Linked DNA regions of Homo sapiens: regions 1, 2, 3 and 5 are each linked to region 4. Evidence: fine-mapped expression QTL. A gene starts in region 4. Each other region holds a variant in brackets. All regions are shown on one strand. Distances are from middle to middle.

Region 1 (6,143 bases), 50 kb after region 4:
GCTGTGTGGAATTGGTGGAACGTGTCCTGTCGCTGTGTTTGTGTACCTTGTTTGTATATATTGCTAGTATTCCTGTAACAAGCAAACTCACAGAAACTTCCCAGTGGATAAAGTATACTTTTCACAGCTTGGTGAATTCACTTGCCCCTACTTTTTTCTAAAAATCTCATTTTTCCTCAAGTAAATACATGTTGAGTTTATCAAAGCCTGCATTTTCTTTTCTTTTTATAAAACCTTGAATATATATTCTGGAGAGGTTTTCCTAAACTGTTCTGATTTCTAATTTGGAGTGCATAAAAAGGTTTGAGCGTAATTAAAAAGATTAATTGGTTTTGGTAATGATGGACCAACACAGTGCAGGATAAGAAACATACAATTTTTTCACTGCAGTTTTCTTTTCTAGTTCAAAAGGTGCTTATTACTGCTCCTGACTATAATCCTAGTCCCTTTCATGTTTGACAGATTTATAGTTTACAGGGCCTTTATACCTACCTGCTCTGAGTAGTGTGGGAGATGGAAGAGGAATAAAGTGTGGGATAAAGTCTGAGTGTTTGATTCTAGTTCTGCTTTCCAAGAAAGAAATTCGTTTTCTCTACACCTCAGTTTCCTCATCTGTAAAAGTCGTAACACAAATCCCTCCTAGAGTGTATTCTTATGAGTCAATGAAATACAGGTAGAATGCTAACAAGAAGCTTAAACAATGTATATAATGGCCACTTGGAATTAATTTAGTGATTTAAAAATGCTTTTCAATGTTCTTCCCATTGATTTTATTTAGCCATCCAATAACCCTAAGCAGTAGAAGGAAAAGCACTTTTAGCCTCATTTTATGGATCAGGAATAAATAAAGCCTGGAGGAGTTACCAGATTTGTTAATGTGAACATTGGGCCCAGAGCTCAGAATTTAAATAGTTTTATAAATATTGAAGTGCTTTGGCACTAGAATTTAAATGAAGTTTAAAATCTTAATTGTTTTTGTTATTGTGGATGTAATTTGCTTGTTTCTAAAATGTACACATTGTAGAATATATGATTTAGAAAGTGGAAGTCCCCCTTAGTTCTCTCTTTAGAGATTTTAGAACCACTGTTAACAGGTTAATATGCTGGCTTGCAGACACTTTCCCTGCAAATAATAAAAGACTGTGGCGGGGTCGGGGTTGTATGTGTGTATAGTACTCACAGAGTAATGATTTTTGTACAGAAATGTGTTCTTAATAGTCATAATAGTTCCCCATCTTTTTATGCTTGACAACATACGAATATTTTTTCATGTCTGTATAAACATATGTCTAATTCTCTTCAGTGGCTATATAAGGCTACATTGTATTACATACTGATTGATGATATTTTATGAGCTATTTCTAATTTTTTGCCATTAAAATATCCCTGCAATGAGGGTCGTTTTATATACATCTCCAAGCATTCCTGGGTCTATTTTTGTGAATTGTATTTATTCAAGAATTAGTAGGTCAGGAAAATGCATGTTTAAAATTTTGTTAAGCTATCTCTAAATTGTCCTTCAACAGATTGCATCAATCTCCACTCCCACAAACAGTGCAGTAAATCTTTCTCCTTATGCTTTCCATCAACATCAGGTTTTTATAATTCACACACATCTAAATGAAACATTTCTGCTGCAGCACAAGACATTTGAAAAGACCAGAACTATCTAGCTGTCTGTCAGTGCCTGTCAGCAAACCAAGGGCAGGAAGCATAGAAGAGTAAATTAAAGCTGACAGGGCAGTGAGCACATGTTAAGCTAGAAATTGAGATATTTGGCCACCATTCTTATTCATTCATTCATATAACATTTGCTGAGGTCTGCAATGGGCCAGGCCCTGTTTAGGCCCTGGGAACACAGTGATGAGCAAGACAAAGTCCCTGGCTTCATAAGCTTACATTCTAGTGCAGGTGATCCATCAACAAATAAATTAGAACAGAATGTCAAGAATTGTTAAGACCTCTGGTAAGAAAGTGGGGAGAGAGATAAGGGTGGTAGGATGCAGGTAGGGAGGCTGCTTTAGACTGGGTGGTCATGGACTTCTTAAACAGAAACCCAGATGCAGGGTAGACTGAGCCCACTGGCCACCTGGGAGAGCCCATCCAGGTAGAGCTGGCAACAGCAGATGCAAAAGGCCTGAGAAAGGAGCCAGCTTGATGGGTTCCAGGAATAGCCCCAAAGCTGCACTGACTTTTGATTTACCGGAGAGGATAATTGGGCTACTTACTTTCTTTATAGAATGCCATGTTTGGGCAAATGAACTTGTGAAGCACTTAGATCTCTTTAGAAAAGTGATGTTATTAGCATAGGGTAGTATTTTAACCAGTAAAATCCATCAGCGAGTCTCTGCCAACACCCAGCAGGTGTGGCGTTTCACGCAACCCCTCTCCCTAGCTCAAGACTGTCCTTGTTGAAACTTATACCAGTGCAGAATAGACCCACTGCACCTCCAGCTTGGAAAAGTCTAGACCAACACACTTTCATGACTGGCAAGTCCTTCTTCTGCTGCTTTGCCTTGTAAGAACCCAGTTCATTAAATGTGTTTTAATACCATTGGAGAGAAGAAATCACAGTTGAAAAAAGAGGTTTGTTGGAAGGTGGTCACAAAGAGAAACTTTCACTTACCAAGCCTGGGAAGTTTCTTGGATGTCTAAGAATAGTACACTACTACCCCCTACTCAGGATTCCAGTATTGGCCTGAGAGCAGGAGATGAGGCATAGCTGTGTGGAGGGCAAAAGAGGACAGGAACAAAAGAAGAAATGGAGTTTTAAATGTGAAGGTGAAGACAGGAGTTAGATTTTCTGCAGGCCAGACCCTCCACAGGCGTTGCACTTGTGGCTCAGCCCTGTCCCCACCCCAGGCTTGATTGACTTTTAAGCAGCATGAAGACCAAGGCGGAAGCTCACTTTCTCTTCAGTACTTGGTCCTCCCCCTCTCAGACCTCATCTTTTAAGGGGAGGATTGAAATTGCCTTGACGGAATGCTTACAGGGACTGAAGCACTGCTTATTGGGTGGCTTTCATTTCCTGCAATCTAATTCTTCCATGTCTCAACATGTAGGGAATCTTTTTTTTTCTTCTTTGCTCTCCTCCAAGAGTCTTATGCAAGAGAGCTCAAAC[A/C]AGAAAAACCTCCTTGTGAACAAAACAGCACCCCTGGAAGACTTTGAAATCCATGCCAAATGTGATCTTGAACTTGAAATTCAAACATAGGACTGTTATGATTATCTTCTACTTCTGAAAAGAACTCCCAAGTCTACCCTTATTTGCCTACATAAAGAAAAAATGTGCTTACTTGTAAGTACTTTAGCAGATAAATTTTTTCAGAAGACAATTTTTAAGAGTGCTATGAATAAGCAGACTGATGAAGTTTATAATTTGCACTAATACTTTTTATTTTATCAAAATGAAAACTAATCTACTTAAGTGCATTTCTTTTAAAACATCTTTTCAAACCTATAACTTATGGAGCTAAAGGCAATGTAAGGAAAATGATTTCTGCTCATTCATTTGCATGATTAAAATTCAGCTTGCATAACCATACGTTATAGGTTTGTTTCAAACCCTGGAAACCTTTTGGCTTTTGACCAGTGACTGAATTTCTTTTGTTTGGGACTCTAGAACTATAGCAAATGATTGATCCGATAGTGGTGGTTATGACTTATCTGGAAGGAACTGTGTGTTTCAATTTCTTGCCCTATACTTAAATGTAGAAGTCCATTCAATGTATTAACTATACTTCTGATTGCAAAAACAAGAACCAACTCACGTCAGCTTAAGTGAAAAAGGAGAGGAACACTAGTGTCTCATACAACCCAAGGGTGTGGAGATTACCATGCCTAAGGAACATCCTGGAACTAGGTGTTGGAAAGCCCTGTGTTATTCAGGAAATTCTTTCTCTTCACTTCTCATCTGAGTTTCTCTCCATGTGCTAATTTTATTCTTCCCCTACAAACTTTTTTTTTTCTGTCCTGCTTCTTCTGCTTATGTTGTACCGAACATGGCAGCCAGTAGCTCCTAAGTGTGTATATCAAGGTCTCTCTTTCTTTCTTTTGCAAATTTTCTGGGAATGGACTCTGCTGCTCCAGACTGGAATCATATGCCAACCCTTATATCATTCAAGTCTGGCCAGAGCTGGGGTCCAGGGAAGGACTTATGAGCAGACCACTCTGCCTCAGGTGCTTTGAAGCTAACAATTTTGGTCAGGAGTGAAATCACATTTGTCAGGAGCCTCACCTGTGTTACCGTATGAATGGAGGATATGTGTTTGTGTAGCCACACACGGGAGTTTGATTGAGAGGGGTGTGCAGGTAGAAGCAGTTACCATAGAAGAGGGAATCTTTGACTTGTAGATGTCTATTTTGTTTATTTATTTATTTTAGTTTTTCTGGTATAACATTGAATAGAAGGTGTCGATTTTAATCTCAAAACATGAAGTTGTAACATTAAATGACCTGAAAGTATAGACATAGAAGCTTGGAGACTGACAGGAACCACTGAGAATTTCCTAGACTCTCATGGGGGTTTCATTCACTTTTCTTTTCCTCCAAAGGACAAACTCCACAGCCTAATCCAGGGACTGTCCAGATTTTTAGTTGTAATGGGTTTTTTTGTTTCAAAATGTTTTTAATAATGAGTAAAGCAAACCTTAATTGTCATAAGGGGCCGTCGGTTGTCCTTGTAAACCTCTTAAGTAAATACAAATTTTCATGATTATGCTGTGTTTTAAGTAGGATTTAATATGTATCACAAAAATGGGAAATGGAGTTTCGGGAATTCATTTTTGATCTGTGATCTAGAAAGAAAGGATCCCTCAGTGAATACTTATTATTTTCATTGCCAAAGCCTGGATAACTGTTGAAAACTGAAGGACTGGTTACCACTTGAGGTAAAAGGTCTGGTAACTGTTTCACAAGGAAATTCCAGTGAGCCTTTCAATATGTTGTAGACATGAGGATCAAGGCTTTGGCTTGCTCAGAAGAAGGTCTACAGTGAATAAAACTTTTCTGTGTTTCTGTATCTTCTTTGGTAAAAACCGGCCACTGTTTTCAGGAAATGGGGTTTCTATTCCAGTAATCTTTGAGCAAAAGACTGTGTCCCTGACAAGGGATGCAATACTTAATTACACTACAAAATCCTGGCACAATGTTGGCTCCTTTGATTATATCTTTTCTTAAACACAATTATTGTTTTAAAGAGGCATCAGCTTCACTTTGAAGAATATACAACTTAATCCCCTGTCAAAGTCTGAGGATGCAGTTTTTTTTCAATGTCAATGACTAAATTGTTCAGAAAAGTTTCCTCATAAAATGGCATTTCTTTGGTCCTAAACATTCTCAAAATCTGAGGAAACATTTCCTTGTAACTTTATTATAAATTTGGTCCTTATGCATAAAAGTTTATTGTTTGTATAAGTAAGTGGGCTCTGACTGATACTTCTGGATTGTTTCCTCTTCAGGGTTTGCAAGGAGCCAACTCATTCATCTGCCATTGTTGGTTTTTGTTATTGTTAAAAGTCTTCTATAAGATTTTTTAAAGGAATCCTTAAGCTAGATATTTGATGCTTTGTAACAAATTTTGGGGTGATGATATTTAATTCTAGGACCAGCACATATTTGACAATTGTCACTTTATCTTGATCAGTTCCTCTTGCCTGTGAAATTGCGTTAATGATACTCATTTAGTCTTACAAGTGCTTTTGGTTTCTTCATTAACACTAATGCTAATAAAAGCAAGCACTGGTCAGGCATGGCGGCTCATACATGTAATTCCAACACTTTTGGGAGGCCAAGGCAGGAGAACTGCCTGAGCCCAGGAGTTTGAAACCAGCTGGGCAACATAGTGAGACCCCCATCTCTACAAATAAATAAATAAATAAGCCAGGTGTGGTGGCACACACCTGTGGTCCCAGCTAATTGGGAGGCTGAGGTGGGAGGAGTGCCTGAGCCCAGGAGTTCAAGGCTGCAGTGAGCTGTGATTTTGCCACTGGGCAGCCTGGGCGACAGAGTGACACCCTGTTTAAAAATAGAAGCAAGCACTTATATAATTGTATTTGCCAGGAGCTTAAATAAGCACTCTATGGATATTTACTTATTTAATTTTTATATGAAGTATGTATTATCACCATTCCTATTCTAAGCAGAGA
Region 2 (6,143 bases), 30 kb after region 4:
GTTGGGACGTTTTTCTGCCTGTTTATTTTTTTTTCTAATTCTCTGGTCATCGCGGCAGTGATCAAAAACAGAAAATTTCATTTCCCCTTCTACTACCTGTTGGCTAATTTAGCTGCTGCCGATTTCTTCGCTGGAATTGCCTATGTATTCCTGATGTTTAACACAGGCCCAGTTTCAAAAACTTTGACTGTCAACCGCTGGTTTCTCCGTCAGGGGCTTCTGGACAGTAGCTTGACTGCTTCCCTCACCAACTTGCTGGTTATCGCCGTGGAGAGGCACATGTCAATCATGAGGATGCGGGTCCATAGCAACCTGACCAAAAAGAGGGTGACACTGCTCATTTTGCTTGTCTGGGCCATCGCCATTTTTATGGGGGCGGTCCCCACACTGGGCTGGAATTGCCTCTGCAACATCTCTGCCTGCTCTTCCCTGGCCCCCATTTACAGCAGGAGTTACCTTGTTTTCTGGACAGTGTCCAACCTCATGGCCTTCCTCATCATGGTTGTGGTGTACCTGCGGATCTACGTGTACGTCAAGAGGAAAACCAACGTCTTGTCTCCGCATACAAGTGGGTCCATCAGCCGCCGGAGGACACCCATGAAGCTAATGAAGACGGTGATGACTGTCTTAGGTAGGTAAGAGGACCCAAGCAAGCCATCATTCCCATTCATTCAGCAAATCTTTACGGAGCATCTGTGGTGTACCAGGCACTTACTAGGCAGTAAGAATGCAGCAGTGAACAAGAACGGACATAAATCGCCACCCACCTGGAGCTTACACTCTAATAAGGAAAGATAAAATAAGTATTCTAATGGGGGTAAACAAATTAAGTGAAATAAGATGAGTCTCCTGTGGAAAAATCAATCAGGGAAGGAAGGAAAAATAAAGCAGGGAAGGGAGCTGGAGAGTGCTAAGCTAAGCAGGTATCGTTTGCACTTTAAAAAAGTGTTGTGAGGGATGCCTGGAAGATGACTTTTGAGCAGAGGTGTGAAGGCAGTCAGGGAGTGAACCATACTGGTGTCTGGGGAAGGGTGTTCCAGGTGGGAGAAGCGGTAAGCACAGGAGCCCTGACCAGCCAGGAAGCCACTATGGCTGCATGGATCGAGCAGAGGGAGTAGGAGAAGATGAGGTCAGGGAGCTGGTGGGGTAGGGGATGGGCTACTCAGATAATGTAGGGTCATGTGGTTATAAGGACTTCAGCTTTTCATTTTTTTTTCTTTTTTCTTTTTTTGCCGGAGCCTCACTCACTCTGTCACCCAGGCTGGAGTGCAGTGGTGCCGTCTCAGCTCACTGCAACCTCCACCTCCCGAGTTCAAGCAATTCTCCTGCCTCAGCGTCCCAAGTTGCTGGGATTACAGGCAGCGCACCACCATGCCCAGCTAATTTTTGTATTTTTAGTAGAGATGGGGTTTCTCCATGTTGGCTGGGCCAGTCTCAAGTGAGATGAGAAGCTATGGGAAGGTTTTAAACAGGGGAGTGACATGATCTGACTTATATTTTAATGGTATCTCTCTGGCTACTGTTTTAAGACACTGCTGTAATGAGGCAATAGCAAAAACAGGAAAATTGTTTAACCTATTTATGCCTAGTGTTCCATTATTGGAATGCTAAGCTTGTGGGAGTTATTTATATCCTACTGCTCAAGGTCATTGACAAGTTCTGATTTTTCACAAAAGAAATTTGCAACCCCTGGCATAAATGGGTTAATAGAGTATTTCAGTACTCGGGAGAGATCACCATGGCCAGATGGTAGTTGAAGGTGATGGTCAGATTCTGTTTTTTTGTTTTTTGTTTTTTTTTTTTTGAGACAGGACCTGGCTCTGTCATCTAGGCTATAGTGCAGTGGTGCAATCTCAGCTCACTGCAACCTCCACCTCCTGGCCTCAAGTGATCCTTCTACCTCAGCCTCCCAAGTAGCTGGGATTACAGGCCTGTGCCACCAGGCCCGGCTAATTTTTGTAATTTTTTTAGAGACAGGGTTTCACCATGTTGCCCAGGCTACTCTCGAACTCCTGAGCTGAAGCCATCCGCCTGCCTCGGCCTCCCACAGTACTGGGATTACAGGTGTGAGCCACTGCACCTGGCCAGATTCCAGATATTTTTTAAAGGATTTACTGATGGGTAAGGTAGAGGGGAAGATGAGAGGTGGAGGAGAAGGTGGGGAATGTCATTAACCAAGATGAGGAAGACTGAAGAGGAGGAGGTTTTGGGGGAAGATTTGGTTTTGGACAAGCTAAATTTAGGAACCTATTAGACATCCAAGGGGTGTGGCAATTTTATTGAGTGGACAGTTGGATGTTTGACTCAGGAATTCAAGATTTAGGTCTGGGCTGGAGATGTACATTTGAGAGTCCTGGGGGGAAACTGGTATTTTAAATCACAGGACTGCGTGAGCTCACCATGAACGTGAATGTGGATATGAAGGAGAGGAGGACCAAGGATGGAGCCGTAGGGCAGGCCCTCCAGTGTAAGGAGGTCAGGAGGTAAGGGGCAGCCAGCAAAGGAGCCCTAGAAGGGATGGAAAACCCAGGAGACTCTGGGGAACTAGAAGAAAGAGAAGAAGGCAATCGAGGAGAGGAAGCATTAGCAGTGTTGGTACCCCTGAGAGGTGGTGTAAGACCAGGTGTTGCTGGCCTTACCAAAGTGGTGGACTTGTGCTGATCTTGAGATCATCACATTTGGTATAGCCAAGAGCCTGATTGGAGTAAAATTGAGAAAGAAAGGAAGAGCCTGGGCAACATGGTGAAACCCCATCTCTATGAAAAATACTAAAATTAGCTGGCCATGGTGGTGCATACCTGTAGTCCCAGCTACTTGGGTGGCTGAGGTGGGAGAACCGCTTGAACCCGGGAGGTTGAGGTTGAGTGAGCTGTGATCACACCACGGCACTCCAGCCTGAACAACAGAGTAAGAGCCTGTCTTAAGAAACAAAAACAAAACCAAAAAAAAAAAAAGGGAGGAGAGAAAGGTTGTGAGCCCTGTACCAAGAAGACATGTGGTTTCGTAGAATTTTCCCTTTGTTTTATTTTCTCTGAAGTAGGTGGCCTATTGCCCCACCTCCCCAGTTCTAATTCTGGGTTACAGGTAGAATTTGTAATGTGTGGGCAGACAAGAACTTTTGTGGTTTCACAGAACTTGTCTTGTAAGGCAGAGAGGCCGTTTCTCACTGTGTGTGTGGCTGCAGCAATGGGGACTGTTGCTGAGAGAGATTCAGGAGTACATTTCTGTCTACTCCTTATGAGAAGGAATTATAAAATGAATTATCAGGTAGCAGTTCATAGTGGAGGATACAGTATGTGTGGTGTGGTATAGAAACCCTCACAATGCCTCTAGGTCCTGAAACTGCTAGTAAGATTTGGGGGTCAGCAGACACAGAGTGTGATTGTTAAAATAATTTCAAACTGAGGATTTATTTAACAAATATTTATATAGTGCTTAATATGTGCCAAGCATTGTCCTAAGTGTTTTTACAAACATTAACTTATTTAATTCTCATGGAAACCCTGTGAGATAGGTGCTACTATTATACCCATTTACCAGATGGAGAAACTGAGAGTTTAAGCAGTGTGTCCAGTCACTCAGCTGTTAACCAAGACTCACTG[C/T]GCAGCTGGCCTCTAGAGTTCACATATTTACCACCATACTCTGTGGCTACTTGTGATTTATCTGGACTTTTTACGCTCATCTTTTTGTCCTGTCTTCTGCTTTGACACCGTTGACACATTGATAAGAAAATGGACAAGAACAAGAAAAAGAGGGTTCACATTAATCGGCATTTCCCCTCGAGCTGGAGAAGATATTGATGTTTTTGATAAAGAATGAACTTTGGTATTTACAGATAGTGTCAATGAACTGTGCTGCTGTCCCTGCTTAACTTGTAGGCATAATCATTTGCTTGGCTATGTGTCTTGAGAAATTACCCGCCTGCTTAAAAAGAAAACTTTCTTTTCTCATCATATTATAATATAGTATACAGCATGATAGAGACAAGGATTCCAAAATCCTAGGTGGAGAGAACAGGACCCTTTGTGAGACAGTCATGGTCACAAACTTCAGTTTTGTATGTAATTTTGTCTGCAACAGTTACGGAAGGGGTTAAAAGAAAGGAGCTGGGAGGTTTTGGCAGGTGTGGTATTGACTAAGAGAAAAACCAGAATGAACAATTAAATTTCCAAGTAGGATAAGAGAAGTCATGCAATTGAGATAAGACAACATTGGGGAATTGGTTAATGGAAGAAAGACAGTTTGGTGTCAAGGACCTCAGAAGTTCCTTAATGGTAAGACAGAGGAACCTGGTGGAAGACAGGAAGTTCAGGGACGAGGGAAATGAAACTCAAGAGCTAGGTGGTGTAAGGCTGAAGACTTCCAGCTCCTGATTTCTCTAGATAACAGAAAGATTTGGGTTTTACCCCCAATTCTTTCATTTTCTACAAGGGTGATCTGCAGCACATCAGCTCATCTTTTCTTGGTTAGATTCCCTCATCAGGTGGCATAGACCATCTTTAAGTTCTTTACAAGTTACAAAGTTCAATTATCCTTTATGACAGTTAGTAACCAAAGGTGGGAATGAAAAGGAAGAGTGGAGAGAGAGAGAGGGAGAGAGAGATTGAGAGAGAGAATATGAATCTTGTGGGGCAGCACCAAACATTTCTGTGGATCCAAGCACAGAGCCTCTTTCCTTGACAGCAGCACCTACCACAGTATCTTCCTAGGGAGAAAGCCCCCAGTTCCCTACATACTACATGTAAGAATTCAATTGCCTGAAACAAGCATCTCCCAAATGATAGTATATTAGAAAAATCAACAGTGCTGGCATTAACCATCATCTAATCACTGGTTCTGATTATGTGGAGATGAATAGCTTAATACTCATGTTTTTAATAATTGGAGGATTTAAATGTCTTTATGATAAAATGCTAAACATTTCCATTTACTCCTTGATACATATTTTGTAGGAAAGATTCATTTAAGATTAAATCCATCCAGGTGTGGTGGCTCACGCCTATAATTCTAGCACTCTGGGAGGCCGAGGCGGGCGGATCACTTGAGGTCAGGAGTTTGAGACCATCCTGGCCAACATGGTGAAACCCCGTCTCTACTAAAAATACAAAAATTAGCTGGGTTTGATGGTAGGCACCTGTAATTCCAGCTACTCAGGAGGCTGAGGCAGGAGAATTGGTTGAACCCAGGAGGTGGAGGTTGCAGTGAGCCAAGATGGCGCCCCCGCACTCCAGCCTGGGTGACAGTGAGACTCCGTATCAAAAAAAAAAAAAAAAAAAAAAAATTAAATCCTAAAGTTTCTTACGAACCCTCTTCTTTTACATATTAGAAAGTCAGTCTCTAAGTACATATTAACTGTCTATTAAACAGTATCTAAGAGGTACATGGTTGCATGAATTCAGTGAGCTTAATCTTATTTCAGAAGAGGAAAGGATGGACAGGGGCTGTTGAGTGTGGAGACGGCTTCTTAATGGGCTGGGATGTAATCTGGAAGGATAGGTGGGATTTGCATGGGCTGGAGGAAGACACATTCTAAGAGGGAGAAATGGCATACTCAGAAGTGTGATGATAGAAACATTTAAAGCTTGTGCATTACCATGAGGAAGGCCCCACAGAGTACAAATACTTGCTGTGGTGCGGTGGAAAAATAGCTCACCTGTGAACCAGCAAAGTTTAGTTGGCTATCCTCTTTGGAAGGAGAGTAGACCAGATGACCTTTGTGTTCCTTTCCAGCTTTGGGATTTTGGTTGAACACAAAAGCTAACAGCATGGGGATTCAGACTCTTTCCTTGAGGGTAGTGGTGGTAGTGATGATGGTGATGTGAGTTTTCAATCTGTGTGTGCATGATTGGAAAGGCATCAAGGCATCATGTTCCCGTTTCAGCAGCCCTGAGGCAAAATGCTTGCTCACTTCTGGGTTAGAATGTGTGATGGGGCCCTTTATGTGAAAAAAGTTGCTTATTGAATGTTCTCATTGAAAAGACATCGGAGACATACGATCCTGCTTTCCAAAGAGCACCAAGGCCCTGCCTAAGAAAGGGTTTTGAAATCTTACTTGTCAACAAGCCTAATCAGCTACAGCAACCAAACACACAAGAAACCCCACATGGAAACGTCTAATTTATTGTCAAACAACACACCATGTG
Region 3 (6,143 bases), 39 kb after region 4:
CAAAGCATTAGCTTGACAAGAGTCCTGTGATACAGCACCAACATCTTGTGTATAGAGCTCTATTATAGGATGGTCCTCATAAGAAACTGTCCCCCTCTTGCTAACAAATCCTTCGAGAGTAGCTAGTTCGTCAGCTGCTATTATCACCTTTGCTAGGATTGGAAAGTTTGCCCTGTGACTGAAAAGAGTTGGGACCAAAACACAGGCCTTTTGGTATTATTCATAAGCTTCATCGATGAACTGTCCTTACTCCATTAAAAAAGAGAGAGAGAGAAAAAAAAAGTACATGTGCCTAAGTTCGTGAGGAATTCTGAAACATTTGTTTTCAGCTTCTGTGGCCTTGTAGTTGCTTCTGCAACACAGAAGCCTGCTTTCAATGTTTACTGCCTGCATGCCTTAGTAATCAAATATCTGTTAAAATAGAAAAAAAGAAAACAGTTAAAGCTTTGCCTTAAGAAATGCTGAGTGAAATGAACAGATTGTTGGCACACAGGGGCTCTCTTGTTGCTGTGCAGAGAGTCATATCAGAAGGAGGGTGATTCTTTTCAGAGTCAAGCCATCCAGGCACCAGTACTCAGTACATTGAGTCCGGGGGTGTTCGTACTTTTGTCTTGAAATGGCTAGTCCCAGGAGCACCTTTGTCACAGATGATTTTCCTGTGTGCTTCATGGCATTGCTACAGAGGCCTATGGGAGGGAGGCATTGTTTTCAGGGCAGGCCGTCAATCGGTGGGTGCAAAAATGCAGTTGCCACTCAGTTGCTGCCCCTACGCTGCTGTTTGACACATCCCTTCCTGTTCTGACGGGGAACGTGGGGACTGAGATGACCTCAGTGTCTGATGCTGGAAGGAAGACAGCTTCAAATTAAAAAAGAAAATCCCTCATATGGCACTCCATCCCACTTGTTCAAATGCCATCTTGACACCTCTTCCAACACCACATTTCCAGGAGTCTGTCTTCTTTCTTCTGTCTCTGCCATATGTAGCCATTTGTTACCTCAAGTCTGGCTCTTGGTTCTTTCTTTTCCCCCCACGCCACTGTTTCAGACACCTCCCTTGGCAGTCAGTTTAGAAGTGCTTTTCCCAAATCAGTGTTCTTGTTTCCAATGTAACCACTGCCCTGCCCTCTTACTTCTTCCATTTCCTCTGGTCCAGACCCCTTCAGTTCCATTACACCAAATGCACTCAGCTTCTTTTATTCCCCTCTCATGCCCCCTTCTTCAGAACTTCTGGCTTTTCTTCTTTTTAGAAAACTGAAACCTTCCTCTTAAGCTGAAACAAACAATTATTGAATATTTTCTGAGTGCAAGGTGGAGAAACATTTCTCAAATTTGACCTCTTTGAAAAGAAGGTATAGGGAGAGGTTCCAGTACCCAACTACATCCAACCCTCCTGCCAACACCCAGCCTCCTGGAAGGTTTCATGTTCCAGAACTCAGGAACACCCTCTCTTAGGGCTTTGATTTCTGCCAAAGGAGAAATGTGGTCATCGTCTGTGACTCAGGCGTCATATCACTGGGCTAATTCAACATCTGGAATAGTATGGTGTGTGCTGGCCAATGGTAGAATTTTATCAAATTCCATGTTAACATTGTACTTCGAAAATTTCAGCTGGGGACTACTATGTTCATTGTGTATCTATGGCAAACATGTTGGGTGGGAACTGGGAGTAAAGGGTGTTTGCTGGAATTATGCCCTGTCGTGGACCTAGGGATCAACACAGAAGCTGGGATAAGGGGTAAGGGAACCAAGAGTTATTGGCAGGAGTCATCTTCCCTCCTGCACTGACAGTTGTCCCTCCAGCCCAGCCACCTGCTCTCCCTCACCACCAGATTGTTGTTAACTCTGCAGAGTATGTGGCGGAAAGATCCCATTACCTCAAAGAATCAATACTGTTGAGAGATTTGACCAAGTTCACTTTGTAAATTACTGCAGCATTGTGGCTGCAGCTCTGGACCTTCTAGTTCCTGCTTCTTCTAGTGGGTCCCAACTTCTTGCCTTGGCAAAATATACCTGTCCTTGGATGCCTGAGTGACAGTGAATCACAACAGGCGTTGTTTTCATCAAGTCAGAGAATTTACTGCTCAGTGGTGAACCTATTTTATTCTTTATGTTTTTTTCTGCATTTTATATTTTCTCATCATAAACATTTATTGACTACCTTGCTAGGTTTTAGGCAGTGTACTAACTATGAGACATGGCCTCTACCCTGAAGGCACTGTGAATCTGTGCTTGCTCTAGTGGTTTATGGTTGTCAGGAAATGACCAAGATTTATGAGTCAACGGTTGTGTCACATGAGAGATAGATGACATGGAGGCAGACCTGTTCTGTGTGGCTTTTCCTGTGTGTGACTAATAGAGAACCCTATTTCCAGGCTTATTTGAGGAAATGAGAAATGTACTCAAAAAAGATAACTGAAGGCACAAAGAAATATAC[A/G]TAAGGGCTGAATGAGGGGGCCTAGGCTGAAAAAATGCTGTGGGCTTGGATGGTCCATGGAGGCCTCTTTGAGAAGGTAGAATATAAGCCTGATTTCAGTGTAACAGGTGGAGAGGAAAGGGGAAGGCATTGCAGATAGGAGGAAAGGCAGGGTGGGAGACAGGTATACATATGTCTAGGGAGGCCATGCCAGGGCCGTGGGTAGAAAGGGGAGACTGGGCAGACTGATTTCTGGAATAAGGAGTTTGAATAGTAATGACAATCTGGTTTGAGAGACATAAGGGAGCCAGAGACTGGAAGGCCTTGGATCCTAGGGTCCTGTGGACTTCATTGTCAGATATCTAAGAGAGACTAGGCAGATAACATGGGTATATGAATTGGGTCTGGAGTGGATATAAGGAAATAGGGAGGGGTGGTGCCTGTGGCTAACTAGACAGATCATGCCCTGTGTAAAGACAATCAGTTTCATTTTTTGTTAAAAGACCATGCAGGCCCAATTAAATAGGCCTGTGGCCAGTCTTCAGCCCACAGCTGAACTGCCTCATCTGGCAAGAAAGAGCCCATGTAGGATCTTGAGTGTTGAGAAGGTGGGAGTTGCAAAATGCAAAGCAGGGTTTTAGAAAGATGAGAGGTGGGTTGGAGAGGGAGAGATCACTTAGGAGACAATAGGAGAGTCCCCAGGATCTGGGGATGGGAGGTAGCTCAGATGCCAGAGAGAGGCAGAGCTGGTCCATCATGGTAGATGTTGTAGGAAGGCACATTTGTCAGCAGCAGCTAGAAGGCCCATCGGGGCTGCAGGGGAGGAGAAGAGAAGCAGGCCAGTGGGGCGTGAGCTTATGGAAATCTGGCAGGAGGCAGAGAGAGAAGAAGCAGGAAGAGGGATCCATCATGGGAACTAAAATTCAGAGGCAGGGTCAGGCAAGAGCAACACTTAATCAAGCCTTGCCACTTTCCCCAAGGTCTTTGAGCTTTGCCCTGTCTCATTCCCCAGCTGACCTCCCAATCTTTGCTTTCTTCATCTGGCATGAACTCCCTTAATTTCCCTTCCTTCATATCTGAGTCCACCTGCACAGGTCACATCCTTACCATCCTAGCTTTTCACTAGGGCTCATTCCTTCCAGCCAGGAGCTGGGGGATCCACGAGCCTACTCTTGTCCTTATTCTTGCTTTCCTATGAGCTTGATCGTTCAAAAATGTAAGCCCTGACCTTAACTCCCCTTCTAACTACTGCTCTGTCTCTCCCTCCCTTCACTACCAGACTTTTGTTCTTGGTTTTTTTTTTTTTTTCTTTTCTTTTCTTATTTAGAGATGGGGTCTCCCTATGTTGCCCAGGCTGGTCTCAAACTCCTGAGCTCAAGCGATCCTTCTGCCTCAGTCTCCCAAAGTACTGGGATTATAGGCACGAGCCAGTGTGCCCCGCTGATTTTTTTACTCTTGTTTATTTTCTTTTCTTAATACTTCAAACCGTAGTAAGCTAGCTTCTTCCTATACTACTCTAATACTACTGTGTTTGATTAAGCCACCATTGTCTTCCTAGTTGCCAGATTTAGTGATCTACCTTGACCTTCCTGTTATGTGCCTGCTTGCTTCATGCTCCCTTTGATAGTGTCTTCCTCCTTCTGTTCCTTCTCTGCTGCTTGTCCAGTCTCTCCCATTTCTGACCATCTCTGAAATGCCCTTTGTTCCTTCTCCTTTGGGTCCCCAAGTTCTTTCCAGGTGATTTTACTCCTGCAGCTTGAACCAACCCCTCCATGTGAACGTCTCTCAAAGCAGCCTCTCCATCCTCAGCCTTTCAGGAGATCCCAATCTCTGTTTCCAGCTGCTGTCACGTGCACACCTGGATGTCCTGGAGGCACCACAAGCTTCAGCTGCCCTGCAGACCTGCTCTACCTGTTAAATAGGATCTCTGCAATGGGTTTCATCTGCCTTGCCTTCCAAGCTGGAAGTCTTGGTAGTACCATCTCTCTCACCACCTATAACCAATTAATCACCAAATCTAAAATTATTCACCAAATTGGCTGGGTATAGTGGCTCATGCCTGTAATCCCAGCACTTTGGGAGGCCGAGGAGGGCAGATCACGAGGTCAAGAGATCGAGACCATCCTGGCCAACATGGTGAAACCCCATCTACTAAAAATACAAAAATTAGCCAGGCGTGGTGGTGCACACCTGTAGTCCCAACTACTCGGGAGGCTGAGGCAGGAAAATCGCTTGGGCCCGGGAGGCTGAGGCAGGAAAATCGCTTGGGCCCAGGAGGCAGAAGTTGCAGTGAGCTGGGATTGCACCACTGCATTCCACCCTGGTGACAGAGCGAGACTCCAACTCAAAAAAAAAAAAAAAAAATTAGTCACCAAATCTACTTCAGTGGTGTCTCAGATCCTACTACACGCCTTTAGTCCAAGACTTGCTGTGTGTTGCTAACGGTCATCTCCGTCTGGATTCCCTCCTCCAGCATTTTCTTGCTCCAGGCCTTCCCCCACCACCAGCTGAGGCATTTTCCTAAAAAGCACAGTTAGCTCTGATCTTTTCTTGTCTACTCTTCCAAACTGGATAAAGCCCAAATTAGTTGGGATTACAAGGCTGCTTTCCCAGTCCTGTTCCCAGCCTCCTTTTCTATGCACTCCCCTCACACAGCCCCTGCTTCTGTCATGCCAAGCTTCTCACTGTCCTGCACATGTGCAGTGACTGCCTGAGGCTCCTCGAAGTTTTCTGTAGCATGGCAAACTCCTGTCCATCTTTCAAGATCCGACTCAAGAGTCTGCCTTCTCTATGATATTTTCTCTGACTCCCCAAGGCAGAGTTGATTATCCAGTGCTTCTGTAGTATACTATTTATATATTAAAAGAATTAACTCATAAAAGTAACCCACTCTATTAAAATTTATTTGCTAAGTGCCTCTCTTACCCGACTGTGAGCTTCTCAGGGACAGGACTGTGTGTGTGTGTTTTCACTTGTACAGTGCCTGGCACACAGTAGGCACTCAGTAAATGTTTATATAATGAGCCAACAAACATGCTTATTGGGTGGGACCTGGGGTGGGAACTGGCAGTTAGTGGAGGGTCTGGTCACAAGAACAAAGGTAAGAGGGACTGGGAAGGAGAACGTGGAAGAGAATCGACATTTATGAAGCACTTTGAATTGTCAGGCATTTTTATGGATAATTGTCTCATTTCTAATAACAGCTCATTTCTAATAACAACTCTATTGAGAAAAAAGGGATTTTTAAAAATTGACCACCACTTTGTGCCAGGCATTTATACATACTCTGTTTAATCCTCTTAGAAGGTGATGCTGCCATTATTTTAAATCTGAGGAAATGGAGGCCCAGAGAGATGGAAACCTGCCCCAGGTCATATATCAAGTTGTGGTAAAGGCTCCCCCTGCCCCAGGGCATACCCTCCTCCCAGTGCTGGGAGCCACCATCTCACCAGCCCACAGCGGGTGGGAGAGGCAGCCTGGGTGACAGTGGTTCTGGGCTGGTCCACCCAGACTGGCTCAGCCTGGGTCCTTGTGCTGATCGTAACTACAAGAACTCGTTCTATGTCACCTGGGACCCCTCTTACTAACTCTGCGCATCAGCCATGAATTGCTTCCTGGAATGCAGGCCTCCTGTGTCCTGGTTCTAACCAGTGGTTATCTTGGCCTGAGCCGGGGGGATCTGTGGTACAGAGTTAGCCTGGGTCTGGAATTGACTTCTGTGAGTGACCCA
Region 4 (6,143 bases):
CTATCCACCTGCTGTAGGCATCCTCATTGCTAATTAGTATAGATGAGCAAAATTCAGCAGAGATTCAGTTCAGATACTTCCCAAAGTTAAGAACAACACATCTGTGAATTCCTGCCCATATGATTGAAGCCCCAAGGTGAGCTGGGGACAGAGGAACATGGCCTCTTTCCATAAATCCAGAGAGGAGGAAGCCTTGCCTGAGTCCCACATTGCTTCTCACTGTGGAAGGAGGCAGGCAGTTTTGTGTTTTTTAAACTTACTTTGTTTTTTGAGACAGAGTCTCACTCTGTCACCCAGGCTGGAGAGCAGTGGTGTGATCTCAGCTCACTGCAACCTCTGTCTTCTGGGTTCAAGCGATTCTCTGGCCTCAGCCTTCTAAGTAGTTGGGATTACAGGTGCACACCACCATGCCTGGCTAATTTTTTGTATTTTTTGTAGAGATGGGATTTTACCATGTTGGCCAGGCTAGTCTTGAACTCCTGGCCTTAAAGTGGTCCACCAACCTTGGCCTCCCAAATATCTGGGATTACAGGCGTGAGCCACCACATCCACCCCCAATTGTTCTTTCAGCCATCACAATTTCATTCTATCAAGCACTGTGGAATGCCCCTTTTACCTCCTTATAGAAACAACGTTATAACTCTTTGTGTTTCCAGGAACACAAAACACAACACTTGTATACATGAAGCTGACTAGCAAATGTTTGTTGAAAGTTTTGAATGACTTTCCAGCCAGTGATCTCTAAGACAAAATACACCCTCAGCCTTCATCCTTGCCATTTTGATGTTAATTTTAATTTGGCTTTGCTAATAAAAACATTTCGGTAGAGAAGTGAGACACCACAGGCCAAACAAGGATTTGTAGGAGGTTCTGGTGGATAATCCCTGGGCTACCTTCTAAAAACTAGGAATTGGGGGCCACATCTTTCTTTTTAGTTGTCGTTTGCCTCGTCTTTTCTTTTCCTGCTTCTCCCCATAGGTGTTTGTTTGTTTGTTTGTTTATCACTGCTTTTCCTCTCTGAATCTGTTTCTCTGTAACACCTTCTGGCCTTCCCCTCACATCTGACCCATCTAGCTGTTAAAAACCATCTATCTGGAAAGTCTCTTTCCTTTTGCAACACAGCTCCCCATGCCCTCTTCACTTTCCTCCTTTTTTAAGGATTCAGATTCAACTCTGTGGGATCCCTGTTCTGCTTTGCAATTACCTCGAGTTCAGGAAGTTCCCAAGGTACAACATAATGCAACATAATGTGTTTCCCAAGTGCCTTTGTTAGTAAGTTGTTTGGATTCAGAACAGATTTTCCCAGCAAAAGAAGGCTCTTAGTGGTGTTTACAGTCTAGCCTGCAACATCTTACTCAACATACTACACCTTTGTTGCGTCAAGTATTCAGTAAATGCTGGTGGTTGAGTATTTCTGTGTTTACCAGGTTGCCCTTCAGCACCGTGATGTTTGAGCTGAGCTGTTCTCTCCCTTGACAGAGAGAGCTCTTTCCGACCCCCGCCCCTCCGAGACGGAGTCTTGCTCTGTCGCCCAGGCTGGAGTGCAGTGGCGCGATCTCGGCTCACTGCAACCTCCGCCTCCCAGGTTCAAACGATTCTCCTGCCTCAGCCTCCAGAGTAGCTGGGATTACAGGTGCGTGCCACCACGCCCGGCTTTTTGTATTTTTAGTAGAGACGGGTTTTCACCATGTTTGCCACCGAGCTTTTTTATCATATGCAAAGCTTCTGCTTGTAAAAGTAAACACATGATCTTTCTTTAGCCCTAGCTTCGCAAGTTGTACTTCTCTCTACACAGTTCAACTGCAAGACACCGCAATAATTTTCTGAACACTTAGATGAAACAATAATTTTCACATGCTGATGAAAACTTAGCTGTAGCCCCGGGGAGGTTTGAGGCACATTAGGCTATTATGGTCTATAGGATAAGACCCACGGAGTAAGGGACGTAACCTTATTAAAACATCCTCTGCAGAGAAAACAGAATCTCTTTGATGGTAGGGGACAGATTATCTAACAGGTTGTTTGCAAGGATGAGGTTCCTAGCTGGCACACAGAAGGGCGCAGTATTAATGGTGAATGCAAGATGAATGAATGAACGGATGGATGGATGGCAAAGGGTCACAGGAAGACATCTGGGCACACAACTCTCATTGCTTCCTAAGGGCCTGAAGTCTGAGTGGGAAGGACTTCACCTCACAGTATTTCCTTTTTGTAAGGTCACCAGGAAAGCACAACTTTGAACATTTCTGTGACTTCGTTATTGCTTTGCAGAATTCAGAGAGAACAATGCCTTCATGACATTTGTTTTACTTTGCATCTTTCTTCTTTACTAAAGGTGGGTCAGTGGAGGTTTTATATTTCAGCTTTGAAAAACAAAGTATCCAGGACTATTTGCCCCAGGAGGCCAAGAAACCTCTTACAAGAACCTTAAATATTGTTGGTTGCCTCTGGGGGCTGTCCGCACCCTCGGGTAGCTTTGGGGTTGAGGTTTCCAGCGTTAGGTCGGGCTTGGAGTAGAGCCTGCCTCCCACGGGGGTGGTGGGTGTGGGCTGCACTTCCCGCAGCCACTTCAAACAAATCTCTGAGGACAGAGGGGCAGAGGGACTGCGTTCTAATACGGAGCTCCGAGGTATGGCTCCGTGAGGCTTGTGGGTACTAGCGGTCCTTTAGTGGGCGCTTTTCCCTCTCGGGGCCGGCCGACCACCCACCTGGGGACGATCCCAGGCAGGAACGCGTCTGCAAGAGCGCTGCCCTCCCGCGGCTCGCACGGGCCCCTTTGAGCGCAGCTCGCGGCCTTGCAGGTTGGGGACGCTCTCCAGTGGGAACGTCGAACGCACCCGGCGGGGCGGGGCGGGGCAGGGAGGGGCCGCTGTCCCTAGGTCCCTCCCTCGCACCGCCAAACTTTCCTTTGGCTCTGGACGCGTCGCAGGGGTCGCTGGAGAGGAGGCGCTCCGCCCGCCCGCCGCGTCCTCCGCTGCTTCTCCGCGCCCGGCTGGAGCCCGGCGCCCGGTCGCCCCGTCGCGCTCGACCCCGAGGGCATGCGGCAGCCGCAGGGGCCCCCGCTCCCGGGCTCGGCGGCGCGGGTGAACGTGAGCGGTGAGTGAGGGTCCGGGCGCAGGGAGGGTACCCCGAGCCGCAGTCACCAGGGCGTGCGTCGTGGGGAGGCCGGGGCGCAGCGGCGCCTGCAGGGCTCTAGCCTGCGGCTTTTCGGGGTTGCCTGGCGTGCAAGCCTGGGCTCCAGACCCACTCCAAACCCCGGGACAAGACTCTCCCGGCGGGTGTATGGCACAACTTGCTCTTTTCCCACCTTTTTCCCCGCTAGGAGCAAAAAGCAATCTAGATGCAAAATCGGCGTTGCGTCCGCTGCTGAGGGCTGGCGGGCTGGGCGCAGAGGCCAGGAGAGCGCCGCACGGGTTGCGTCTGCCTTTGCACACGTGGTTCTTTCCAAACTCAGTCTCATTGCCATCGATGGTGATTAGGAAACTGGGGTTCTCTCGTGAAGCCTAGGGATATAACATTTTTCAGCCTCCAGTTACATCTGGTACTGTGCTGTGTCCGCTGGGGAACAGCTTGAACCATGTGCAGGCTTCTAGAGATTCGGGAACTAGTAACTAGCAACACTGTCGGGGTTGTTTGTTCAGGGTATGCCCCCTCACCACCACGAGACAAAAGTGCTTTTGTTCTGTAGCAGAGTTACTTTATTGCTTTCCCTCAACAAGTTGCAGCTACACAAAATTGCTTAGAAATTCCGCACGCATGTAATTTGAGGAGTGACTGTGAATATTGGAAACAATTTAGTCTTATTAAGGTAATCATTAAAATGGCCCTGAAAAGCATTTGTAGGTTAGTTTTTATTTATTTATTTATTTATTTATTTATTTATTTATTTATTTATTTTTGAGACACAGTCTCGCACTATCATCCGGGCTGGAGTGCAGTGGCGCGATCTCGGCTCACTGCAACCTCCGCCTCCCAGGTTCGAGCGATTCTCCTGCCTCAGCCTCCCTAGTAGCTGGGATTGCAGGCGCCCACCACCACGCTAGGCTAATTTTTTGTATTTTTAGTAGAGACGGGGTTCCACTGTGTTGGCCAGGCTGATCTCGAACGCTTGACCTCGTGATCCACCCTCCTCAGCATCCCAAAGTGCTGGGATTACAGGTGTGAGCCACTGCGCCCGGCTAGGTCAGTTTTTTAAACTGAGTAATTTCCACGAAATGTTTCCCCCGTAATTTGTTATTGTCATTACAACGCTTTTCTTCCTCCTTTTCCTCCGAAAGTAGCATTACCTGGTCTTGAGATGCCGTTTAGAAATAAAGGGCTTTCTCACGGTTCCAACTTAGTCTGTATCAGAGAATAAAGTAAATGTCAATTACAGACAGACAATCAATCTCCTCTTTACAAATTCCATGTACCGCACAACGTTTCATTAATGCATGGACTTTTGTATCGCTGAGAAGAGTTGCTGGATTTTCCATTGATCCATCAACAGTTGCTAACCCTGCTTTCCATGGGCAGTGGATCTGATATTTAGTGGCCTGAGTCCAGTAAACAGAGTTTTCCTCTTTTTGGGACAGAAGTGATACGGTTAGAAACACACACCTTGGCTCTGTTAACCCCAGGCTTGTCTAAACAAACTGGACTATACTAAAAAGACGAGCGAGCAAACCCTGCCAGTCAGAGTTGTGTACTTGAGATAAGCTTCCAGAGTTGTCTCTTGTGCCTTGAGACAGCAAGGAACTAGTTATCCTGTGGAGATCTGGACGTCTAACTATTTGGACAACACTTACATTGATTGTCACTATCATATAACTAAGAAAATAGGTCATTTTGGCAAAAATTTTTTCTTTGTCTTTAGAATTTGAAACTTTGAGGTTTTGATTTAATTACATATGACACTCCTCTTGTCTAAACCTTTCAATTGCATTTATCAACTACCACTCTTTTTTTTTTTATCAGATCAGACCTATTTTAGATATCTTGCTGTTCTGCAAGATATTTGTTAGAACAGGCCTGCATATGTTTTCTATGAATGGAGACTGAATTTAAAACATTAAAGTATGAGATTGTTTTTCATGTGTGTTCACCGGAATCTGTTTAAGAAACTACAGCATGTTAACTCTCCATCTCATTTTTCAGAAACACACGTGCACAGTGGAAGAAATGCACACACAGCATTGTAGCCAGGCAGCACCCAGACACACACTCTCAACATCACTTATACACACATGCCTAAGGCTGGCTGCTTCTCCCCCAAGTTTCTCAGCCTGCTGCTGAGGAGCAGCAGTGCGTGATAACTTAAGACCCGCCTCTTATTTCTTTGGGCTGGGGCAAGGGGAATCACTATAACTGAAATGGGAATTACTGTACCTCAGATTACCCATTAGCCATTCTCCTTGGAGTATACATTAGTTCAAATGCTTTCTGGCCTGTGATTATACCCAACAGAGTGGTTAAGTCTGTTTGCAGGATTCTAGATGGCAGAGACCAGGCCCAAGGCATTATTAATGCAGTATAAATGGAAGACCAAGGCTTTGCAGTCAGACCAGCTTTTGTTCCAGTCCAAGCTTTGTGACCTTGGGCACATAGCTTCACCTCTCTAAGTCTTAATTTCCTCATCTGTAAAAATGAAGATTATATCCATCTCCCAAGATTAAAAGAGAAAGCACTGAGCATGGTCTCTCATATACAGGAAGTACTCCTTAAATGCTGGTTGCCCTCTTTTCCTCCTAGATAAAAATTTAAGTATTAACACTTGTGTAAACATGGGTGCAAATGTATATTCTGGTAAAAGTGCAAAGATTTCTAAGCCTTAGATGACTTAGAGATGTTATACACACTTTTCTTACTTGCTTTCTCTTTTCCTGGCCATGGGCCTTTTGTTCCTCCCTTCGTCATTCCTCCTGCAGGTACTGAGCCTCCCCCTTTCCGGCCTTGATGATCCTTTGTTCCTCATCCTGGATTCTGTATTTGTGGAGGAGTCACCTGGAACTCAGTCCTGCTGTGGATGGCAGAGGTGGTGATGGGGCTGGGGAGCTATCTGCATAAGTGCAGAGACTTTGTGCTTTTACAAACGGTGGACTAGAGGTACTTGGAGCACAGGGTTCTGTCTTTGAATCCTAGTCCCACTTTTGTGAGTTCTTGTG
Region 5 (6,143 bases), 34 kb before region 4:
GGCTCAAGCGATCCTCCCTTCTTGGCCTCCCAAAGTGCTGGGATTACAGGCATGAGCCATCATACCCAGACTAGACATTTGACTTTTGATTATTTCCTTCATTACCTTTTTTTTTTTTAAAAAAAACCTCTCCCTGGCTCTTCTCTGCTTTCTTTCTGAAGTTTTTCTTTGGATTGTTCTCTGTTCCCACAGTGGCCCTGCCTTGGTGTTCTGGGACTGACAGATTGATTCATCATTGTAAATATCAGTTCTTGGATCTGAGCTAGCAATGTGGGAGAGTTTTATTTTAGCAAAGGTGGGCTTGGTTTGTTGACAAAAGAGCAATTTCTCATGCCTTATAAATAAGGTAACAACATTGTGTACTTTCTAAAGAAATTCCAACAGAATGGGTTTCCTGAAACGGATTTGCAGGAATTCCTGAAGGAATGCAGTAGCAAAGAAGAGTATCAGAAAGAGTCCTCAGCCTTCCTGTCCTGCATCTGCTGTCGGAGGAGGTCAGTATCATGTTTATTCTCCATGCTCCTGAGATGGGCTGTTCTGTTGTCTTAAGAAAGAGCCCCTCCAAGATTACCATTACATTCAGAGACCAGCTTATCATGGGAAATAATTCACCTTTCTTTTCTTTCCTCCCACTGAAATTGGCTTTAGAAATGAATTATTTCTTCTAAAACAGGGTTATGTAGAAAGCTACACGATGTGATTGGAATCTCTTAGAAATACTATAAGACTCTTAAGAGAAGGCATAAATTATGTCCTTAAAGTCAAGAGGCTGAACTCTTAAGTGGCCCAAGTAAGAGGTCAAAGCTCTTATTTTTAGAGGTGAAACTCTGGGAGTGTCAGAGGTGTTTTCCCTTTTCACAGTATGTGGTACAAGCAATCTTTCTTGATGAGAGCAGGAAACTTCCTTGCGAAGAGGCTGTCCAAGTGCTTGCTTATCCGTGCACACCAGTAGCTCTTCCTTGCCTAGCTGTGCTTTGCCTGTTGTTCGTCAGGACATGTAGAGAAATGGTCTAGACCTCAGTGGACAAAGCATATTACATAGTGATTTGTGGACTAGAATGGGGTCAGGTGAAGACAATTTTTTTTTTAATGTGCCTATGTTTGCTTTCATCTGAAGTCAGGGGTGCCAGTTTGTAACTAAAAGTATACCCTACATATGTTTTTTCTTTTTGGAAGGACTCTGTAACCCAAATTCCTGAAGGAAGCTATGAGAACATAATTGCTATTTAAAACCACAGGATGCATTTTTCTGTTAATCAATTCATACAGCATCTTGGGACTTACAATGATATGACTGAGCAGATCCAGAGAATGTCTGGTAAATAGAAAATGAGATCTGAGAAGAGTTGTTTTCAGAATCACACCTTTTTTTCTCAGAGCATTAAATTGTTGCTGTGAAAGCTGGGATAAAGGAAATTAATTTTCTTAATAGGCAGCTGCCTCCTAAGAGGTACCTTGTATAAGGAAAGTCTCTCAAAATCTCTTTTTTACTATAAGGGGGATAAACTTCATTGAAAAATGTAGTCATGAATTCTAAAAAGTAAACGATAGGTCTTTGGTGTTTGGACCTTGGTTTGTGCCACACAAAGTCCTGGGAGGTTGTTAAATGTTTTGTCATGCAGCCCTATGGAACAAGTGAAAGATTTAAGGCGTGGACCCCAAGACGTTTGGGTAAGATTGGGTCTGAGTGGTGAGACGCAAGGAGCAACAGCAGCAGACCATTTGCCCTAAAGTGTGCTGAGGGTTGTTGAGAAGATGCATGGTGAGACGGAGGGTCTGCCCCTCATGAAGAGTGAAAGAATTTGAGGGAACAAGAGAGCCCACCAAGGAGATCAACTGAAGAACTAGGATGATGAAAGTTTTGAAAAAGAGGATATCAAAAAACAAAGACAGGTAGCTGTAACTATGTTTGGCCAAACGATGGTCCTGAGTGAAGTCAGCTATAGCAATTTCAGTGGAATCATCAGACCAAAGCCTAGATCCCAGGGGGCTTGCATGGACCCTGCAGAGTGAATGAAGGGCCTAGGCTGTGATGGAAGGAAATGGATTGTAATGGGGCCTTGAGAACAAGTGATGGCTTTGACTCCATCTAAAATTAAGTATAGCTTGATGTGTTTAAAAGCTAGGAATGGGGCTGGTTATGGTGGCTCGTGCCTGTAATCCCAGCACTTTGGGAGGCCAGGGCAGAAGGATTGCTTGAGCCCAGGATTTTGAGATCAGCGTGGGCAATGTAGTGAGACCCCGCCTCTTAAAAAATAAAATAAAAGCTAGGGACAGAAGAATGGACTAAAATTGAGGAAGGCTGTGAATGGAGGCTAAAGATGAACATAAAGATTCATCTCTGCAAAGATTGGTTTTTGTGCCCCCTGTCTGGTGACCATGACAGATGACACCTGCTATCCCAGTGCTGCTTCCTGCAGAGCACGGCTGTGGTCACTCTTCAACAAAGCAGTCCAACAACCAGCACACATTTGATTCTCCTTTGAGTTTTTGACAGAGCCTCTAGCCTGAGCATCAGAACACCTGGGTTTTCATTTTGGACACTGCCATTAACCAAGTGTGTCCTGTGACCTCTCCTAAACCTCTTAGATGGACCAGATGACCTCTGAAACCTCTTCCAGTTCTAAAGCGATGTGGTTCTTTGGAGAGAGATGCTTGGTTGAACAGATGCAGAGTTAACCTTTACCTTCCTCTATTGCAGTGAAGGAGGAAAATTGGCTGTTCTAGTAATTTATAAGGCCTTGTTAGCGAAGGGACACAGAGATTCTTTTTTTTTTTCCAGAAACAAACCAATGTATTTATTGAGTAAAACCTAAATGTAACATATATTTTTCTTTTTTTTTTTTTAATTTTACTTTAAATTCTGGGATACATGTGCTGAACGTGCAGGTTACATAGGTACACATGCGCCATGGTGGTTTGCTGCACCTATCAACGCATCATCTAGGTTCAGCTCTGCATGCATTAAGTATTTGTCCTAATGCTCTCCCTCCCCTTTCCCCCTACCCCCCAACATTTCCCCGTGTGCGATGTTCCCCTCCCTGGGGGCATGGAGGTTCTTAAGAGACAGGTGACTCCTCACAGTGTTTCCAAAAGCATCTGCTCAAACCTCAAACAGTGTACATTGCCTTTATTTATTTATTTACTTATTTTTTCTGAATGTTGGTAAATAATCAGAATACCTTGCCTGTCTTAATTTTTCTTCCTCTTCTATGTTTCACTCAACATGTCTATAATCTACGGGCCTAGAATATAGAGTATTCCTATTGCTCCTCAAAGATGTTAAAGTATTGTATCTTTCCTCTTTTCTTCTTTCCCTTTCTGTTACAGGAAAAGAAGTGATGATCACTTGATACCTATTAGCTAAAGTTCTGCTAAAGATGATTAAAGTTCAGGCATCCTTATCCAGC[G/A]GCTGAGCAGAGGAACCCCAAATGACTTGGACAAGCAGTTCCAAAATGACTCTCTTATTTAATTGTGGAGTGGGAAAGAGGACTCACAGTTAGCCAGCTGACCATGACTGAAGTTCCAGCTTTACTTTTTATAAACTTGAATGATAAAGAATAGACCATGGGCTACTACTGGGCATTAGTGCAATATAACAGCGATAATAAAATTCTCTATTAGTCTGTTAATTTATGACATGATCTCGGAATGGAAAAAGATCATTTCAGAGTGTGCGAAATAATAGTCTTTAACCATGTAATTAAATATGTGTGTTTATTGTCAAATAAGGATTTGTTTTAAAGGTGATTCTTGGGTTTGAAGACATTTGTTAATTCATGGTCTGTACAGAAATGAAGCTGGTTGCAATACCAATCTAGAGAGTCCAAGCTGGTGAACTATTAAGCTGTTTAAAGATCACCCTTGGCCTGGCACAGTGGTTCACACCTGTAATCCCAGCACTTTGGGAGGCCTAGGCAGGCAGACTGAGCTCAGGAGCTTGAGACCAGCCTGGGCAACATGGCAAAAACCCACCTCTACAAAAAGTACAAAAATTAGTCGGGCGTGATGGCAGGCATCTGTAGTCCCAGCTACTTGGGAAGCTGAAGTGGGAGGATCACCTGAGCTCTGGAGGTGGAGGCTGCCATGAGCCATGATCGTGCCACTACACTCCAGCCTGGGTGACAGAGTGAGATCCTGTCTCAAAAAAAAAAAAAAATCACCCTTAAATCAACAAAAAGACCTCATGCTCATGCAGTGGACATTTCTTGGCCTGTTTTCCTGTGGGTTTTCTTCAGCATGATATGAAGCAACTGTTGGCATAGCCAGTGGGATAAATAAGAAATGGAATCATTTGGCTGCCTCGTCACTTGTGCTAATGGTCAGTTGTACACACATGACATGTGGAAGTGACCTGTAGCAGCGGTCACTCATTTTAACAATTGAACTCTGCTGGGTTGGGTATTTACCTTTGTCTAGAAAAGAAATATGATATATTTTCTCTAAATAAATTTATTTTCATCATTCCATATGGCATTCTTACTATTTTATGCATTGTCTCTAAACAACTACCTAATGAAACATTCAGATCACATCTCTCTTAACCACTTGGTCTCCAAAAGGGATTTCCCAATTTCTTAAAAGCAGTGAAGGATATACAGGGGCTAAGATATAGAAGTTATTCAATAAATATTTATGATGATAGCTTGAGAGATGAAGATCACTTCATGCATAGACTTATTTCATACCTGAGCTATCTCAGTGGCCAACTATTTAAAGTTATTGGTGAAGAGGAGAATTTGAATTAAGCAGGACCCTCCTTCCAGGGCTCTTCCTCTTTCTCCTTGGCCTCAGTCGCCCTCCCCACAAGCCCCTACCCAATTTTCCTTCTCATGTCACCTTCCCCCTCCTTGCTCTGACCCCATCTTCATATGCCTGCACCAACTATAGGCAGGGAAAATCATGCAGTTAATACCATTAAAGTATATAAGAGAGTAGATGACTCATGTCTACACACAGAGTACTTTGCTAAAATTATTTTAAACTTTCTTTTTTACAAGATATGTGAAGAGTTATGTTTGATTTTTAAACTAAGACACCATTAAACTGGTGGTTCTGGGGTCATTTGCCTGACCCAAGAATCAGATACGTAATTGGACCACTTGTTAACTTCTGAGTATATTGTCATATACTTAGTTTTGTCTCTGAAAAGAACTGCTATTTTTTTTCTTTCTCTCTTTTTTTTTTTTTTTAAACAGAGTCTTGCCCTGTTGCCAGGCTAGAGTGCAGTGTCATGATCTTGGCTCACTGCATCCTTTGCCCCCCAGGTTCAAGCGAGTCCCCTGCCTCAGCCTCCTGAGTAGCTGGGACTACAGACATGCACCGCCACACCTGGCTAATTTTTTGTATTTTTTTAGTAGAGATAGGGTTTCACCATATTGGCCAGGATGGTCTTGATCTCCTGACCTCGTGTACGCCCGCCTTGGCCTGCCAAAGTGTTGGGATTATAGGCGTGAGCCACCACGCCCAACCCAAGAATTGCTATTAACATGGTGAAACCCTGTATCTACTAAAAATACAAAAATTAGCTGGGTGTGGTGGCAGGCGCCTGTAGTCCCAGATACTCAGGAGGCTGAGGCAGGAGAATCGCTTGAATCCGGGAGGCGGAGGTTGCAGCGAGCCAAGATCCGGCCACTGCACTCTAGTCTGGGTGACAAAGTGAGACTCCATCTCAAAAAAAAAAAAAAAAAAAAGCTTTCATTTGTTCTGCAGCTGTGACTGCCATTTGAATAGAAGATTAATGATGGGTTTTCATGCTCATATTATTCTTCTATTGGCTTTCATGTTTTCTTTTATTTATTTTCCCTCCAGCTGGACAAAACAGTTTTAGAAAGAAAAATGTTTTTCAGGGTTAGCTCACATCTATAGAAACATTGTTTTCTCCCTTTTTAATAATGTTAAACAATTGTCACTTTATCAACTGTATTGTTATTTGGATTTTATTGAACAATGTTGTCTCATAATTCTGCTAATAGATGCATCTGGGATAAATCATTTTCTCTCTTATCATAGGCCTCCACTTAGAGGGTTCCCTGTGAAAGTTAGGAGACACATTCTTTCTGCCTGCTGGTTTCATTCTGGGATCTCCAACCCTTGAATTTAACTCCTTGGCTTGTGGTGACACAGTCAAAACCATATACAAC

Direction of the effects. Positions count from the first base shown, and alleles are read on the strand shown. Sizes are in standard deviations (SD) of each study's normalised expression. Not every link is listed here.
For the expression in unexposed skin of the gene that starts at base 2,906 in region 4, A is the low allele of the variant in region 1 and C is the other (small effect, 0.29 SD a copy in GTEx).

Evidence for each region. PIP is the estimated chance that this variant, and not a neighbour inherited with it, causes the effect.
Region 1: its variant is fine-mapped to the expression of LPAR3 in unexposed skin (GTEx, PIP above 0.99). The same link has a PIP of 0.9 or more in minor salivary gland and sun-exposed skin.
Region 2: its variant is fine-mapped to the expression of LPAR3 in whole blood (INTERVAL, PIP above 0.99).
Region 3: its variant is fine-mapped to the expression of LPAR3 in whole blood (TOPMed, PIP above 0.99).
Region 5: its variant is fine-mapped to the expression of LPAR3 in blood mononuclear cells (TOPMed, PIP above 0.99). The same link has a PIP of 0.9 or more in ileum, monocytes after R848, spleen and whole blood.

Annotation. Positions count from the first base shown.
Region 1 is chr1:84,839,820-84,845,962 of GRCh38, reverse strand. The region is part of intron 2 of LPAR3 (lysophosphatidic acid receptor 3); the gene reads left to right. Among named protein-coding and RNA genes, the nearest start is that of LPAR3, 50 kb to the left of the region's middle. The variant A/C (reference allele first, on the strand shown) is at 3,122.
Region 2 is chr1:84,859,873-84,866,015 of GRCh38, reverse strand. LPAR3 (lysophosphatidic acid receptor 3) reads left to right here. Exons shown (of 3, transcript NM_012152.3): 2 at 1-631. Among named protein-coding and RNA genes, the nearest start is that of LPAR3, 30 kb to the left of the region's middle. The variant C/T (reference allele first, on the strand shown) is at 3,603.
Region 3 is chr1:84,850,686-84,856,828 of GRCh38, reverse strand. All of the region lies in intron 2 of LPAR3 (lysophosphatidic acid receptor 3), which reads left to right. Among named protein-coding and RNA genes, the nearest start is that of LPAR3, 39 kb to the left of the region's middle. RefSeq lists an enhancer at 2,157-2,406. The variant A/G (reference allele first, on the strand shown) is at 2,435.
Region 4 is chr1:84,889,969-84,896,111 of GRCh38, reverse strand. LPAR3 (lysophosphatidic acid receptor 3) reads left to right here and starts at 2,906. Exons shown (of 3, transcript NM_012152.3): 1 at 2,906-3,096.
Region 5 is chr1:84,923,909-84,930,051 of GRCh38, reverse strand. It overlaps MCOLN2 (mucolipin TRP cation channel 2), which reads left to right. Exons shown (of 14, transcript NM_153259.4): 13 at 373-494; 14 at 3,331-4,469. The coding sequence ends at 3,367. Among named protein-coding and RNA genes, the nearest start is that of LPAR3, 34 kb to the right of the region's middle. The variant G/A (reference allele first, on the strand shown) is at 3,411.